3 separate regions of the Homo sapiens genome follow, and regions 2 and 3 are each reported to be linked to region 1. The links are microRNA targets in miRTarBase. Many come from high-throughput screens and were not tested one by one. Region 1 holds a microRNA gene; each other region holds the end of a gene's coding sequence.
The links. The annotated mature microRNA hsa-miR-6721-5p reads UGGGCAGGGGCUUAUUGUAGGAG and lies in region 1 at 1,944-1,966, opposite strand. An mRNA with a match to its seed (bases 2 to 7 or 8) in the 3' UTR can be bound and repressed. Matches are read on the target gene's strand: a 7mer-m8 pairs with bases 2 to 8, a 7mer-A1 pairs with bases 2 to 7 and ends in A, and an 8mer does both.

Region 1 (5,072 bases):
GCTGGGGGCAGGTTGCCTGGGCAAGAACTGCTTCTTCAATTCCTTAACAAATGCAACCACCAACACCCAGATCTCTCTCTCTCTTTATTTTCAGTTTTTTTGCTGTTATCCAGATAATTAATAAAAACCAACCACGCAAAACTGGGTCCCACCCTCTCCTTTTGCTCCCAGCCTACCTCCCCAGTTGTGGGAACAGGTCTGGAGTGAGAGGCAGGGAGTGGCTAATGCCACCAGGAAGAAATGAAAACTGGCTCAGAGAGGGGGAAGCCTCAACAGAAAAAGAAATAAATTAAAAGCCCTCCTATCCCCTCCAGCCAGGGTTCGTTCCTTTCCCCAACTCCCCAGGGGGCAGAAGTGAGTGCAGCACCTGATGTCTGCTTCTTCCCCTTGTGTCTGGTGAGATGGTGCAGCAGGGCTGCAGGGGGCTGGGTGGGGTCATGTCCACTGAAGAACTGTACTATGGGGACAGAAAACCAGAAATGTGGAGACTGAACTGGTATCCCAGAGAGTGCACGACCCTGGGCATCTGGGCAAGGGCAGGCATGAGACCTCTGAATTAGAAGGGTCCAGCCCCCACTGACAGGAGGCTACACTGGGAGGGAAGGTGAAGGTGCTGAGGAAAGCTCCCATGATGAGCCTGGGAGTGCTTCAGGTATCAGCTTCCAGCCAGAGGGCGAGAAGTCCTCCTCACAAATGGATGAGTCCATTGAATCCATGGACTTTGGAGTGGGGGGGATTTGTTCCAAAGAATGGATGAGTCCACTGGCCAATGTGGGGTAGAGGGGTAGAGAAGACCACATAGGAAGAGACTCCACTGGGGATGGAATGTTCCCCTCCCTTGTGTAGGCTGAGTCACTGGAGATGAGGGGGAGGCAACTGTCCCACAGACAAGACAGTAGGAGGTGGGGGTCAAGAGTGGAGACTGCACCGAGGCAAGAGTCCATGGATGGGGCCAAGAGGGGGCAGGAGTGGCGCTGTATCCACATTCACTTCAGAAGTTGAAGATTCCAAAGAGGAGAATAAGTGGGGAGAGGGGAGACAAGGAAGAGGGTTTGGCCCTGCTTCAGGGCCCACTGGGTGGGTAGGTGTGGGGAGGAAGATGGGGACAGATGGGAGGAGAGCTCAGAGCCAGGGTTCACCCACCGCCCCCAGGCTTCTTCAGATAGTCACCACCACCCCGGCCATCAGTGGAGATTTCCCGGAAAACAGTGAGCATGGAGTGCCGGACTCTGTCAGCCAGAGCTGGGACGTCATCTGGTGTCAGCCCTTCCGTGGGCACTGGGGGCAGCACCCGCACCTGACATTGTCCTGGGGCAAGGGGAGCACCATCATGGCCTGTCCACCCAGGTCTTTGCCCACAGGTGGGGCCCAGCTTCCGAGTGATACTCTTCCTCAACCTTTCAGTTCTCTTCCCCCAACCCTGGACAACCATCCCTGGGCTTGCCAGCTGCCACTTCTGAGGCCCTTCTCCTATACAAAGCCTTCTCCAATCCCCAGTTCAGACATCTCCTCAGCACCCCTCCAGCCCCCCTCCTCTGGGTTTGGCATTTACTGCTGAATGAGTGTTATTCATTACAGCTTTGTGCACACAGGCCTTATCTTTCCTGTTAAGATTAGTAACAGCCTCTCTTGGTGGGACCAAGTGCTACCCATCTGGCAGGGTATGGTGGGTGCTTAGTAAAGACTTATTGGCTGATGTGGGGTTAGACTAGATGACTGTGTAGACATCTCATGGCTCTGACACTGAATGATCCCCCTGCCTCACAGGGATGTCCTCCCAGCCTCTCCGGACACACCCTACCCCAGAACTGCTCAAAGCCCTCACCCGAGGTGAAGCGACGCTCCTTCTTGCAGTAGAAGTCTTGGTAGGAGGACATGACTATGGGGACAATGGGAACCTGGGGAAGGGTTAAAGCAGGTCAGTCCACAGCTCTCTTCAGAGACTCCTACAATAAGCCCCTGCCCAGAGATGAGGGAATGGTGGGGGTTGGCAGCTGAGTAGCAGAACGAAGAGCAGTAGTCACCTGGGCCTGCACTGCAAGATGGAAGGCGCCACGTTTGAAGGGCAGCATGGAGCCATTGTGGTTTCTCGTTCCCTCAGGAAACACCCAGACCCTCACCTGGGGGAGAAAGAGGGTCAAAGAAGACAAATACATATGGAGGAGTCAGAATAGGTGTGATGTTATAATGGGACCTTTGAGGCCCACTGGCCCTGCATATCAGTTTATTTACAACTGTTCTACTCTGTATCCCTCCAATCCCCCATTTCCCCAGGATGACTCACGTCCTGGGTGAGCAGGGTCTGGGCGACCTCAGACATGACACTGATGGCATCCCCCGTGCGCTTCCGGTCGATGAAGATGACTCCTGCCAGCCAGCAGGCCAGCCCGGCAGAGCCAGCCCACAGTAGCTCGCGCTTGGCAATGGGCACACAGCGGCCTGGCAGTACCTCCATCATCCCTTGGGCAGGGTGGGAGTGGGTGAGGATCGGGGTGGAGGCAGAGTGTCACAGAAGGCAACCCACCTCACCCAGCTCATCACCCTCTGGTAGGGACTGGAGGTGAAGGAGGAGACTAGGCAGGGAGGGGGGCCCCAAGTGAAGGAAAGGGTGACCAAAAGTATATGTAACCTGCTTATGAGGGCAGTTCTACCCAGGGAATGAAGGCCTGAGTGGGAGGCAAGGGGGCAATGTCCCAGAGGAAGGGGAATTGAGGATCTCTAGGAGAAGATATTCTAGGGAAGGTTTCAGGAGGGGAGGCATGGCTGGGGGAGGTGTGCCCTGTGGTGGGGTCTCACCAAGCAGATCGAGAGAGCTCTGGTGGTTGGAGACAACAACATAGGGCTGCGAGGGAGGGAAGTGGTGAGCCCCTCGCACCTCCACTCGGATCCCGTACAGGTATTTGATGTGGAGCAGCATTAGACGCAAGATCCTGTGGGGTCATGGCAAGGGGTCCCAGTGGGATCCATTGATGTCCATCTGCATGCCTCAGCTCCCCCCACCTTACTGTCTTTCTGACCACCTTTGCAGTCCTCTCCCCATTCCCTGTCTCTGGTCTCTCTCAGTCTTTTCTACACACACCATGCCCCCTTCCCCCAATCCACTACTCACTTTGTACCCTTAGGTTCCCTCATTGCCCAAGACCCCTTGCCCCTCACTTCATGTTCTCGACGTTGCGTCCTCGCACGGCACACACAGGGATGGCGAGCACAGCCAGGAAGAGGATCCAGCCATTGTAGAAGGCCATCTTGAAGAAGTACTTGGCACTGGGGCTGCAGAACCACAGGGTGGGCAGCAGGAAGAGCAGCAGCAGGAAGAGCAGCAGCAGCAGCATCCATGCCCCTGGCCACAAATCCATTCTGGCCACCTGCAGGGGATGGGGCAAGGGACAATCAGCCTGGTTTCTGGAGGAGAGTGGGGTAGGCAAGGCACAGAAGGCAGGGCTGGGGGCTGGTGCTATGAGGACAAGGGCCTGAGACACAAACTGGGGCAGGGGTCTCATTGAAACCTTCCCAGGAAGGCTCTCTAGGATGAGGGTGGTGGAGAAAGAGCTCAGGACTGCTCTCCCACCACTCTTCCCAAAGGCTCCGGATATATTCAGACAAGAGACACAAGACACAGACATCTACAATTCACAGATACCTGATAATAAATGACAACAAGAATAATAGCTAACACTTGTAGCTGGTAAGGGTCTTATAATGGTCTATACTTGTGCTGTCCGAGAAAGTAGCCACCACCTACATGTGGCTACTTGAAATGCAGCTAGTCTGAACTGAGATGTGCTGGAAATGTAAAATACACATCAGATTTCAAAGACTGAATAAAAAACAAAATGTGAGATATCCATTACTAATCTTTTATGCTGACTACATTTTGAAATTATAATCTTGGGCCGGGCGCAGTGGCTCACGCCTGTAATCCCAGCACTTTGGGAAGCCGAGGTGGGCAGATCACGAGGTCAGGAGTTCAGGACCAGCCTGACCAACATGGTGAAACCCCGTCTCTACTAAAAATACAAAAATTAGCCGGGCCTGTTGGCGCATGCCTTTAATCCCAGCTACTCGGGAGGCTGAGGCAGGAGAATCGCTTGAATCCGGGAGGCGGAGGTTGCAGTGAGCCAAGATCACGCCACTGCACTCTAGCCTGGGCAATGGAGTGAGACTCCATTTCCAAAAAAAAAAAAAGAAATTATAATCTTTTGGATGTTATCAGATTCAAGAAAATATATTACTAAAATTAATTTCACTCTTTTTGCCTTGTAAAAATGTGGCTACCATAAAAAAATTACATTGTGGCTTGCATTATATTTCTGTAGAACAGTACTGGTCTATACATTAAGTTAAACTCTTAAAATGATGCATATGATAGTCTAGAAAGTACTATTACTATTTACATTTTATAGGAAATAGGCCCAGGGAGGCTAAATAACTTACCTGAGGTCATACAGCTCCTAAACAGCAGTTTCTAGGTTAAATCTAAGCCGCCTGTGTTCCTAACCACTCCATTACGCTGACACTGGTATGTATTGCATATATATATACGAACACAGCACACAGCATATATGGTGATTGTGACAGAACACTCACAGCCATATACCCAAGGGCCAAATGGCAAGATTAAAAGTTCGTGTCACTAATGCCAACAGACACACAGTCATACAAAGACTAACATGTTCACACATAGACACAAATTTATAATTACACCCAGTGACAGATAAAAGAATGTAAATGCATAACTAGAAAAATCCCTCTCCACCCAGGCAGCTCCCCTATTCCTAGGTAAACTTATGGACATACCTGGAATAGCTACAAAGACCAATCCTACCTCCAGACAGGCAAACGAATCCTACTACCCTTTCCCTTCCTTCTAGTGACACTTTGCGTGGGCAGGTACAGTGTGTGAGGCCTCACCAAGTGAAAAAAGGAGGGAATGGAGTAAAGGTGACCTAACAGCACTTGCCCTGGGAGAGGAAAGGGCTCAAGAGGAAGAGAGGCAGGAACACAGAACCTGTGTTCTAGGTTCTTCCTCCTTCCTCCACTCTGCCCCAGTGTTGGGGGCAGGGTAACAATTC
Region 2 (5,072 bases), not on the chromosome of region 1:
AGAACACTCCACAAGGGTAAAGAGTAATTCCGAACTTTTTCAATAACCAGGGGCCCAGACTGGGGACAACAGAAATCCCTCTCCTTCCCCACCGGAGCTGCTAGAGTAGACAGTGGTAATGCTGCTGACAGAGGGAGCACCCCTGTGGTTCCCATCCTCAGCTGCTTCACTGGGGGGTCAGAAACCTCATTATTCTCAGAGCTGCTTTGCTTGGAATCTCCAAGAGTTGGGGCGGCACCCCCCCCACACCCTCCAGAGGATCTGCGACTAGAAATAACATGGCCAGCATGGAAAACATGTATCAGGACCCAGCTAGAAGGGTCAGAGGCTCTGCTGGGACTGTCACAGTCATTGTGGGCACATCTATTTGTGGAGGCCTGGAGGGAAGGGCAGGTGGGTTGTCTCTGCCATTTCCTGGGCATTCAGCACATATCATCCTTTGTGCCTGACCAACCCAGGACCCAGAGAGAACAGGGTGCTGGGTGAGGCCACCAGCAGCATGTCTCCCATATAGGAGTCCCATGCTTGAGGTGGGTAAATGGGGGGTGTAAAAACTGAACAGAGAATGTGCTCTCCTTAAGGAATGCATACAATTAGAGGCCCCTGTGAATTCCCTTGGGCAGGCCAGGGCTATAGGAGCCTACCCACAGCTCAGACCCAAATAGCAGTGATGAGTGTCCACCCCTCTTAACCTGGGCCTCAAATGGCCTATGCCTGGCTCCATGCCTTTTGCCTTACTGCTGGAGCCTATCAATTTCCTATTGAAACACCTTCAGTTGCCCCCCCTGCCCTCTGGATCTAGCCCACATTCCTTAACCTGGTACCCAGACTCTGGGCCCAGCCTCACCCCCTCTCCCAGTCCCATGGACCTGCTTCCCAGCTGTACCATTTAATCACTAAATGACGTTCATCTTCTACCTGCCCTGTGGTTCAGAAGGCCATTCCAGGTATCACCCCCTCACCTTGCTGAAGGGGGCAGGGGCCTCCTCTCTGCTCTCAGCACCATTGACCTGTCTATAGCTAAAAGTACCTTTTCCCTTCACTAGCCTGTGAGCCCCCAGGTCAGGGAAAACTTTTTTGTGTGTGTGTGATCCTCTCTGAGGCAAGGGTCTTGCCAACTTTGCCAAGGGCTCCACTCAGGCAGCTCAAGTGAATATGCCAGCATCCTGAGGCTGTGGCGACTGCTCAAAGACACTGTGGAATATGTAAGATACCAGGGAACCACCATGGGCGCTCTGCAGCAGACCTGAACAAGTCAGTGATGATGGAAGGGGCTGAATGGATCAGATCCAGAAACAAAGGAATACACAGGTCAGGAGAGAAACAAGTAAGGCAACAGACTCTTTATTTAATGTGGTTTAAAATACATCAAAATCAAGTCCCTGGCTGTTGTGAATACCCAAAGGAGACAAAAAAGCTGCCAGTGCAGCTTCAAACAAGTCTGAGTGGCCGGGCTGGGCCATAAGGAAAGCAGTTACAGGGACAGAAGGCAGCTCCCTTCCCCCAGGAAGGGCAAGAGGAGCAGGTGCCTGGCTGTCCCTGGGGTGACCACCTCTGTGCTGTGCAAGGCGGAAAGGCTGGGGCAGCAGCTGGAGAATCAGCTCAGCAGGCCTTGGCCCTCCCCCGTGGACACCAGGCAGCTCCACTGGCCTCCGGGTCAGCCCTCAGGGCCACCGTGATGGGGTGGAGGAGGGTTAAATAACCATCTTTACAGAAATAACAGTCTCCTACAGAAAGTGCCTGAGCTCAGCCCATGGTCCGATAACCTCATGGAAAACAAACAACAAATAAAAAAAAAAAGTGCTGCTGACACCTCTCAGAATCTGGTGGACATGAAGCTCTCAGCTGGACAAGGCCCTGAAAACAATTTACTATTAGCAGAGCCATGCGCTCTTGAGCTTCACCTGCTGTGGTCCCCTGGAGGAAAAGCTAGCAATCTAAGAAACCAACACAGATCTTGGTCCTAAAACTGAGGTCACAAGTGTGGGACCCACCCAGGTGAGGAAGACACTGGCCTTCACTCATGGATAGGCACCTCCCCTGCATCTGGCCCAGGACCTGGGCTACTTTGGAAAGCAGAAGCAGAGCAGCTGTAGTGATTGGTTGATTTGGTCAATGAAGAGAAGAAAAAGGTAGGGAACCTCATCTGCAGACTGGCCTGAAGGTCTAGACATGGATGGAGCTGTGAGCAAAGGCTGCACCTTGCCTGGGGCCCACATTCCTGACCTGGGAAACCCAGCTGGGGCCACCTGCTCACTGTGGCCTCCTACACCACCACACTGGGATCCAGCAGCTCCAGTCCCTCCACAGGCATTAAGAGGTAGCTGAAGTGTGAGTCAGGCAATTATGTGGGCCACTGTAGGCCTTTCCCCTCTCTTCAAGGGGGAAGGTGCATACCTCTGCCTCTTCCCTGCACCTCTCTCGCCTAGCAAACACTCTGTGAGGTTGGCAGCTCTTGTACCAGCTTAGCCTGGCACAGGGGCTGGGGTAGGGAAAAGGCCCTACTGGAGCAGGAAGAGGCAAGGACTACTCCAGACAGAGGGATTCAAAGGGGAAGAAAAAGGTCATGGGAAACACTTCACAGGACAGCAGTATCTCAGCCAGAGATGGCAGAGATCTCAACACTCACACAGCTGCTTGAGGGCACCTAGATGTGAAGGATACACCAGAGAATAGCAGGCAACTCTGATGCAGATCAGTGGTACCTGCCCTGGGGCAGGAGAAGGAGAAATGGTGTGCCATTCATTTGCCATCTCTGGTCTCAGTCACACATGATTCAGTACTTAACATTCTTTGTGAACCAACTTATCTGAGAGATTTAAGGTAAGGGCTAAAAGAGTGGGCTAGGTATGGAAGATGAAGGGACCTGCAGGACAATGAACTAGCTTCAAAGAAAAACAGCAAGAAGCAAAGCCCTAACCATCCTATCCATCTTGGTCTGAGTCATTCTGTTGTCCCAGAAAACTGCTTGGCACAAACACTGGCTAATACCCTGGCAAGTTTGCAACAGCAGAACATTCAGCATATAGAATGGCTCTACACAGTACATAGTAGTTATGTACTGGAGTGGGGGTAGAACAGGACACAGAAACAACTGTCTGCAGCCATTTTATGGATTTCTGGGGCCCAGTCAATAGTTCAATTTCATTTCTTACCTGTTAGACAACAGCTATGGGCTCCCACACAGGAAGAAGTAGAATCCCCAAGGACAGGCAGGGAGGTGCCAGGAAATAGAATCAGGACAAATCTTGAGGATTGCACATGTGGGGGTGGGGGCAGGAAGCAGAAAAACCCATGAAGCCAAAGAGGCAGCTGGACATGGGACCCAGCAACTGCTGCATGGAGACAGTGCTGATGGGAACTGGTGGTGGCCTCTCAGGACTGAAACCCACAGGTAAGCTTGTGGCAAAGCCATCAGAAGCCCTTTCCTTTCTTTTACCACAAACAACCTGATCTCACCAAACAGGAAACCTCAGCATCAAGATGGCAAAGGAGCCAAGTGGGGTGGTGAAGGAGGTGGGACACTGGAGGCCAGGCACCCAGGCACCACTGCTACAGCATCCCTCTTCCTTGGAAGGTCCTCAATACAAACACTGTCATGTGCAAAAAAAAAAGAAAAAGAAAAAAAAAAAAAAAGAAAAAGAAATAAAGAAAAAAACACCTTCAGAAATAATCCTTTGGGTGATCTCTTGTCAATCATTTGTGCAGGCTAGAGAGGCACCTGTGAATGATAAGGCTACTGAGAAGCATCATTGGCCTGGTCCTGGCACTACCAAAGGGCAGGGGAAGCGATGCCCAAGGGGCTCCTGACCAGCACATCATCCCACGCAAAAACATTCTCCAGGTCCCTTGTTCCAGGCAGGAAATCCCCAGCTCTGAGCGCCCTGCCAGGGCTCTGCCTAGGGACACCTTTTCCAGGTCTAGAGAATCAAAGGAGCCTCCAGAGCAGCTAGGAGGGCCTGAGCTGACCAAGCAAGCCCTGCTCACAAGACAAATGCAGTCAAGACCTGGGTGTATTACTTGTCTTGAGCTCTGAAGGGCAGGGAGGGGTCTGAGCCTCAAATCAGACAGAGAAATGCTCAAGTCACTTCTGCCAACTCACTGTGATGGCAGCTACAGATGACAGCCCCTCTCAAGACTCTTCAGCTCACAGACAAGCCACTGACTTCATCTGTACACACCCCCATCCCCAATGCAAGCCCACTGTACACTTACAGGTATAAATGCATTTGCAAGGCCTTGCAAAATGCCCTATGTACGTAAAACTGACCCACAAAATCCAAAATTGCAAGTGCCAGATGCCAGCCAGGTCAGAACATCCTGGCTTCAGCAATGGGCTGCTCAGCATGGGAGCCTTTTATGGGCCAGGCCTGGCTGGGCTGCCGCTCCCTTCCCAGCATGACCCAACACCAGGCTCTCTAGGCCCTGGCGGAGGTGGGCTCTTGAGGCCCAGTCTGGCCTGATGCTTCTGTGCTCGGTGCTCCTGGGTAGCAAGGCGCTTCTGTGACCCTGGGGGAGCTGGGTGCTTGAGCCCCAGGCCCCTCTGGCCTCCTCTCAGGGCCACTGTCAGTGAGGGAGCCCTGGCCACCAGCACTCAGGTCCTGTACCCTCTTGTTCAGGTCATTGCGCTCTGTCTGCAGTGCCCGGCACAGCTTCTCCAGCCGTTGGATTTTTACCTGCAGGCCCTCCAGTTCTTTATCCCGGACTGTTTTCTAGGGAAAGAAATGAGACCTTCAGTGCCGTGCCCCATCAACCTCCCACTTACCATCACCACTTGGCGGCAAACACTTTAACAAGGCTGAGAGCAGACCGAGTCCAAAGCTGGCCCCCTCTAGGAAACAGTCCTAGTTGAAGCCATGACTAGGCTGTCAGGTGGGGCAGCATGGTGCAGAAAAGGGGCACGGCTTGGAGATAACGTATTCCTCCATTTATCTACCACGTGACCTTGGCAAAGGACTTGACTTTTGAGCCTGTCTCATCTATAAAACAGGACTACTAATACCATCCTCAGAGCTCAAGAGAAGGTTCAATGAACAACGTACCTAAAAACATTCAGCAGCAAAAAAGACAAA
Region 3 (5,072 bases), not on the chromosome of region 1:
GAGGGGTGCAGTCATCTCGGAGAGGGAGGGGCTGTCCCTGGGCTCCTGGAGGGCATCTCATCCCTGGCAAGTCCCAGTGCCCCAAGGCCCACCACAAGGCTCCCTCCGCCCGCCCTCCAGCTGCACAGTCTCCACTTCTCTCTGGCTTGGCCTGCTCTCCTGGCTCTCACCTGCGCTCGGTCCCTCTCTCCCCACAGGAAACTTCCTCCTGGCCAACCCTGTGTCTGGCAGCCCCATCGTGACGGGTGTGGCCCTGCAGCAGGGCAAGATCATCCTCACCGCCACCTTCCCCACCAGCATGCTCGTCTCCCAGGTCCTGCCGCCAGCCCCCGGCCTGGCCCTGCCACTGAAGCCAGAGACGGCCATCTCCGTGCCTGAGGGAGGCCTCCCGGTGGCCCCCAGCCCTGCTCTCCCAGAGGCTCACGCCCTAGGCACCCTTTCTGCACAGCAGCCACCCCCCGCCGCTGCCACCACCTCCAGCACCAGCCTGCCCTTCTCCCCTGACTCCCCTGGCCTCCTGCCCAACTTCCCGGCGCCCCCACCAGAGGGGCTGATGTTGTCACCCGCGGCCGTGCCTGTCTGGTCAGCAGGGCTGGAACTAAGCGCAGGAACAGAGGGGCTGCTGGAAGCGGAAAAGGGGCTGGGGACACAGGCCCCCCACACCGTGCTGAGGCTGCCAGACCCCGACCCTGAGGGGCTGCTCCTGGGGGCCACCGCAGGGGGTGAGGTTGACGAGGGGTTGGAAGCTGAGGCCAAGGTTCTGACCCAGCTCCAGTCGGTGCCTGTGGAGGAGCCCTTGGAACTGTGACCCAGTGTGGCCCCGTGGCCTCTCCCGACATTGGTGCTGAAGACGCAGGGACAGGAATGGGAGGGGGGAGCCCCAGAAATGCGGTTGCTGAAGACCCCAGTCACCACATCCTTCTGCCTGGGTGGCCTCTCCAAGCCCTGGTGGTGCTGGGGGTTGTATCCCCGGCCACCTCCTGTCCAGGTCTCCATCCCCCTTTGGATGGGAGGCCTCTCTGTTACAGCCCTCCCCATGCTGTGCCCTGCCATATACGTGGGGGACTCAGGGTCCTGACTCAGGGGCCCTGCCCCCTCCACTTGGTACTAGCTGTAAGCGGAACACCCTGCCCCAGGGCCGGACTTCCAGCCCCCAGAGCCCTCTCCCTGTCACTCCCTGAAACACTATTAATAGCTCTGCCGATAGCTGGTGTTGTCACAACTGCCTGGAATCCGAAGGTGGAGGACAGGCAGCCCCGCGCCCCTGAGACTGGAGACCCTCCCCAGTGTGGCATTTCCTGCCAGGGGCGGGGGGTGGGGCAGCTGTGGGGAGACGGGGGTCTTCCTTCACCAGCTCCCCTCGACTCAAGCCCTTGTCCTCATTATCCGGCCCAGACCAAAGATTCCCTCATCCCTGGGGGCAGCCCTGCCGCTGTGTCTCCTTTGTATCCTAAATCTTTATTTTTCTAGGACATGTTATGCCTCCATTTTCAATTAAAATAAAGTTATCGGATTACACCACCACCAGGGGTCTGGGGTGCCTTCCAGTGTCTGTCCAAAGCAGCGCTGAACACAGAGCCCACCTCGAGACCTGGCCTTCCCATTGCTGCCTCCCGAGGGGAAGAGGGGTTTGCATTCAGATGCACAGAGTGGCTGGGGAGGGGGTGGCACTGAGGCCTCTTGCAAGCCACAGGCCTCCAGATGAGGGTGGACGGAGCACCCCAGTGGGGCAGCAGGGGGACGCAGGAGGGCCTGCCCTTGTCTCTCTTGCTGGTAACAAAGGTTCCACTTGCTTTATTTTATTTAAAACAATAAATAGTCTAAAAATAGAACAGGAGAGGGAGGAGTAGGGTGAGGTGAGCATGAACAGGGTTGCAACCGAGTGGCTCTGGGGTGGGGAAGGGAAGGGGAGAGGGGTGGGTAAACTTCACCTTCCGACACCCCGCATTTCATTTTGGGTTTCCTTCCTAAGCCTGGGGGAGAATCAAGGCAGCTGTGGGTGACTCTGGTGCTCCAGGCAAATGTGCCCAGCGGTTGGGGCTAATCAGTGCCCCCCTCCCCAGTCCCATGGGACCTGCATTCTCAGGGGCTGGAGGCCCAGGAGGGACAAGTTCATCGATGGGTCCTGGCTTCCAGCAAGAGCCGCGGTTGCCATGAGGGGTGAGGGGAGCGAGGCGAGGGGCCGCCCTCTCACTGGAGGTGCGGGGGCAGCGGCAAGGCCTTCTCGGCCAGCAGCTGGTAGAAGGGCTTTGGCGTCTCCCAGTCCTCAGCCTCGCTGCTGGAGCCGTCCTGCTTCACGATGCGGTTGTGCTGGCGGCTGAACCTGCGAGCCTTGGTGCTGGGGAGACGGTGGCAGGATGGCCTGGCTTCCTCACTCGCCTCCCGGGCATCCCTGTACCACTCCCAATCCTGTGTCCCCGCAGGGGCCTGGGCCACCGTTTTAGCCTCTATTGGGCGAGCCTTGGGTCCACCAAGTCCCAGTCAGTAAGATGGGACTCGGCCAAGGGCTCTGGGATGTGTTCAAAGTCAGGAGCCAGGGCAGGTGGCAGCTCCTTGAAGGTGGAGGGGACAGGATTCGGGGGAGTCGAGGTGGCCAAGCGACAGGAAAATCAGACCACGCCCCGAGAAAGTCGTGTGGCAGAGACAGCAAAAGAATTGAGGCAGGGGTCCATGTCTGGGCTCAGCTGTTCCCCAGCTTAGCTGTGGTGGGGTACCCCTACACCTGTGTCACCCCCAAGGGTTTCATAAGAAGGGGCAACACGCAAATTCCTCGGCCCAGTCTCCCATGCCATGACACCCAAGGCTCCAGAGACAGAGCAGGGTTCCGGGGTAGGGAGGCTCTTCCACCCCCCACCCACACCTCGGGGCCGGAGCCTCTCACCAGTATGGCCTCCGCTCCTGCTGGGTCATCACCCGCCACAGCTGGGCCAGCTCCTTGGTGGCAGCTGTGGAAGCGGTTCCAGGGCAGGATCTGGGACAGGAAGGAGGAGGAGGTAAGGAGAGGTCTGCAGGACACCCTGACTGAGAACTCAGACCCTTCCTAGCCTTGTGGGTCTACAAGGCCTCCAAGACCACCCTCTGGAGCTGAGGAGGCAGAGGGAGCTGGACTCAGCGGCTGTTCACAAGGGGGCACCTGGTGTCCCAGGAGAGTGCAGGGGACCTGTGGGCACCGCTCCTGGCCCCCACATCTGGATCTTCCTGTAAAGGAACTAGCTGTTTTCCACTGTGGCTTGGGGGGGGCCTCCCCATCCCCTGGCTCCAGGCCTGGCAGTGACTGGTTCAGGGTTGGCACCGGATCTACCAAAGTCAGTCCCAAGGACTTTGCTTAAAACCTTAGAGACCTCTCCTCCTCCCGGGGTCGCTTGGGTGGGGGACAGGACCCGAGCCTGTGCCTCCTGGGGTGACCCCACCTGCCAGAGAATGAAGCCAGCCCGGAAGACAGAGGAACTGGGTGAAAAGGACAAAGATTCCAGACAGCCTGTGTGAGCCCTAAAACCAGCTATGTCTCAAGGCAGTCTATACCCGCCCTTGTTTTCTAGGTTATATAAGCCAATTCATTTTCTTTTCTTGCTGGGCCTGATGGCTCACACCTGTAATCCCAGCAATTTGAGAGGCCGAGGCAGGCAGATCACTTGAGGTGAGGCATTCGAGACCAGCCTGGCCAACATGGTGAAACCCTGTCTCTACTAAAAATACAAAAATTAGCTGATGGCGCGCCTGTTATCCCAGCTACTCAGGAGGCTGAGGCAGGAGAATCTGAGAGGCAGAGGTTGCAGTGATTTGAGCCCGGGAGGCAGACATTGCAGTGAGCTGTGATTGTGCCACTGCACTACAGCCTGGGCAATAGAGTGAGACTCTGTCTCAAAAAACAAAACAAAACAAAAAAAACTCCTTTTTTTCTGAAGTCTAAAGCCTGAATTGGGTTTCAGCGCTGACAATGGATGGACCCTGTCCAATACAATGGGGCCGGGTTCAGTTCTGGGGAAGAACTGTGGTCCACGAAGGGTTTGTGGGGTCTCGGAGGGGGAAAAAGTGTCAGACAGTTGTGAGGAGCGGCATGGCCAGGCTGCGGGCAGAGAACGAAGCCAGGGCCTTCCCCAGGGCCAAAGACGACCCCCTACCCACCGGATGTACTGCTTCCGGTTCATCCTGCAGAACATGATGAAGCCGTTGACACACTTCTTCTTCATCTGGGGTGGGCAGGGGCCTTTCTTCTTCTCCTTGGGCTTCACAGGGGCCCTGGCTACTTGGCCCTTCGTGGCCTTTTTCTCAGCTGCCAGCAGGGGTGAGGCCAGCCGGGTGGGGGTCCATGTGGTGTCTTCGTCCTCTTCGCTGGAGCCCGGCGTGCCCACAGGGTTGGCCTGCATATCCTGGGGGAGGGAGAGGGTGGTGAGAGAGGAAGGAGGCCCTGCTGGCCCTGGCATGCGGCCGTGTCTCTCACCTCTCGCTGCTTCCACAGGGGCTCCGAGTCGCTGTCCTCCGAGCTGGAGCTGGAGCTGGAGCTGGAGCTGGAGCTGGATGGCGCCTTGCTGTTCCCGCTCAGCGAGAGGTAGCAGTGGTCCAGCGAGACTGAGGACCGGTGCAGGCTGTGGGACTCAGGAGGGTCTTTGGGGGCCTTGGAGGCTGTGTCCTGGGGCATGATGAGGGAGAAAGATGGGAGGGGAGACAAGTGGTGCCCCTTCATCCCCCCAGTACTGCTTTTCTAGGACATAACATGAGCATTAGCAGCAGCTCAGATTGGCAGGGTGTGGTGGCTTACGCCTGTAACCCCAACACTCTGGGAGGCTGAGGCAGGAGGACTGCTTGAGGCCAGGAGTTACAGACCAGCCTGGGCAACATAGAGAGACCTTGTTCTACAAAAAAAAAAAAAAAAAAAAAAAAAAAATAGGCCAGGCGCAGTGGCTCATGCCTGTAATCTCAGCACTTTCGGAGGCTGAGGCAGGAGGATCACCTGAGGTCAGGAGTTCAAAACCAGCCTGGCCAACATGGCGAAACTCTGTCTAAAAATACTAAAAAATTAGCCAGGTATGTTGGTGGGCGCCTGTAGTCCCAGCTACTCTGGAGGCTGAGGC

Region 2: the mRNA of TXLNA is a reported target of hsa-miR-6721-5p. Seed matches in the 3' UTR shown: 7mer-m8 at 4,038-4,044, 7mer-m8 at 3,778-3,784, 7mer-m8 at 3,274-3,280 and 7mer-m8 at 2,714-2,720.
Region 3: the mRNA of SIX5 is a reported target of hsa-miR-6721-5p. Seed matches in the 3' UTR shown: 7mer-m8 at 1,088-1,094 and 7mer-m8 at 1,127-1,133.

The regions. Positions count from the first base shown.
Region 1 is chr6:32,168,141-32,173,212 of GRCh38, forward strand. It overlaps MIR6721 (microRNA 6721), which reads right to left and starts at 1,976; the gene lies at 1,890-1,976. EGFL8 (EGF like domain multiple 8) reads left to right here. Exons shown (of 9, transcript NM_030652.4): 9 at 1-141. It overlaps AGPAT1 (1-acylglycerol-3-phosphate O-acyltransferase 1), which reads right to left. Exons shown (of 7, transcript NM_006411.4): 2 at 3,157-3,365; 3 at 2,797-2,930; 4 at 2,285-2,460; 5 at 2,025-2,120; 6 at 1,826-1,898; 7 at 72-1,308. The coding sequence starts at 3,356. The coding sequence ends at 1,136. It overlaps PPT2-EGFL8 (PPT2-EGFL8 readthrough (NMD candidate)), which reads left to right. Exons shown (of 16, transcript NR_037861.1): 16 at 1-145. RefSeq lists an enhancer at 1,159-2,358.
Region 2 is chr1:32,194,542-32,199,613 of GRCh38, reverse strand. TXLNA (taxilin alpha) reads right to left here. Exons shown (of 11, transcript NM_175852.4): 11 at 1,329-4,712. The coding sequence ends at 4,419. It also overlaps a transcript of CCDC28B not described here. Among named protein-coding and RNA genes, the nearest start is that of CCDC28B, 3.5 kb to the left of the region's middle. RefSeq lists an enhancer at 1-360.
Region 3 is chr19:45,761,237-45,766,308 of GRCh38, reverse strand. SIX5 (SIX homeobox 5) reads left to right here. Exons shown (of 3, transcript NM_175875.5): 3 at 198-1,524. The coding sequence ends at 808. MEIOSIN (meiosis initiator) reads right to left here. Exons shown (of 15, transcript NM_001310124.2): 12 at 4,442-4,630; 13 at 4,126-4,370; 14 at 2,882-2,971; 15 at 1,768-2,338. The coding sequence ends at 2,191. Among named protein-coding and RNA genes, the nearest start is that of DM1-AS, 4.0 kb to the left of the region's middle. RefSeq lists an enhancer at 2,213-2,767.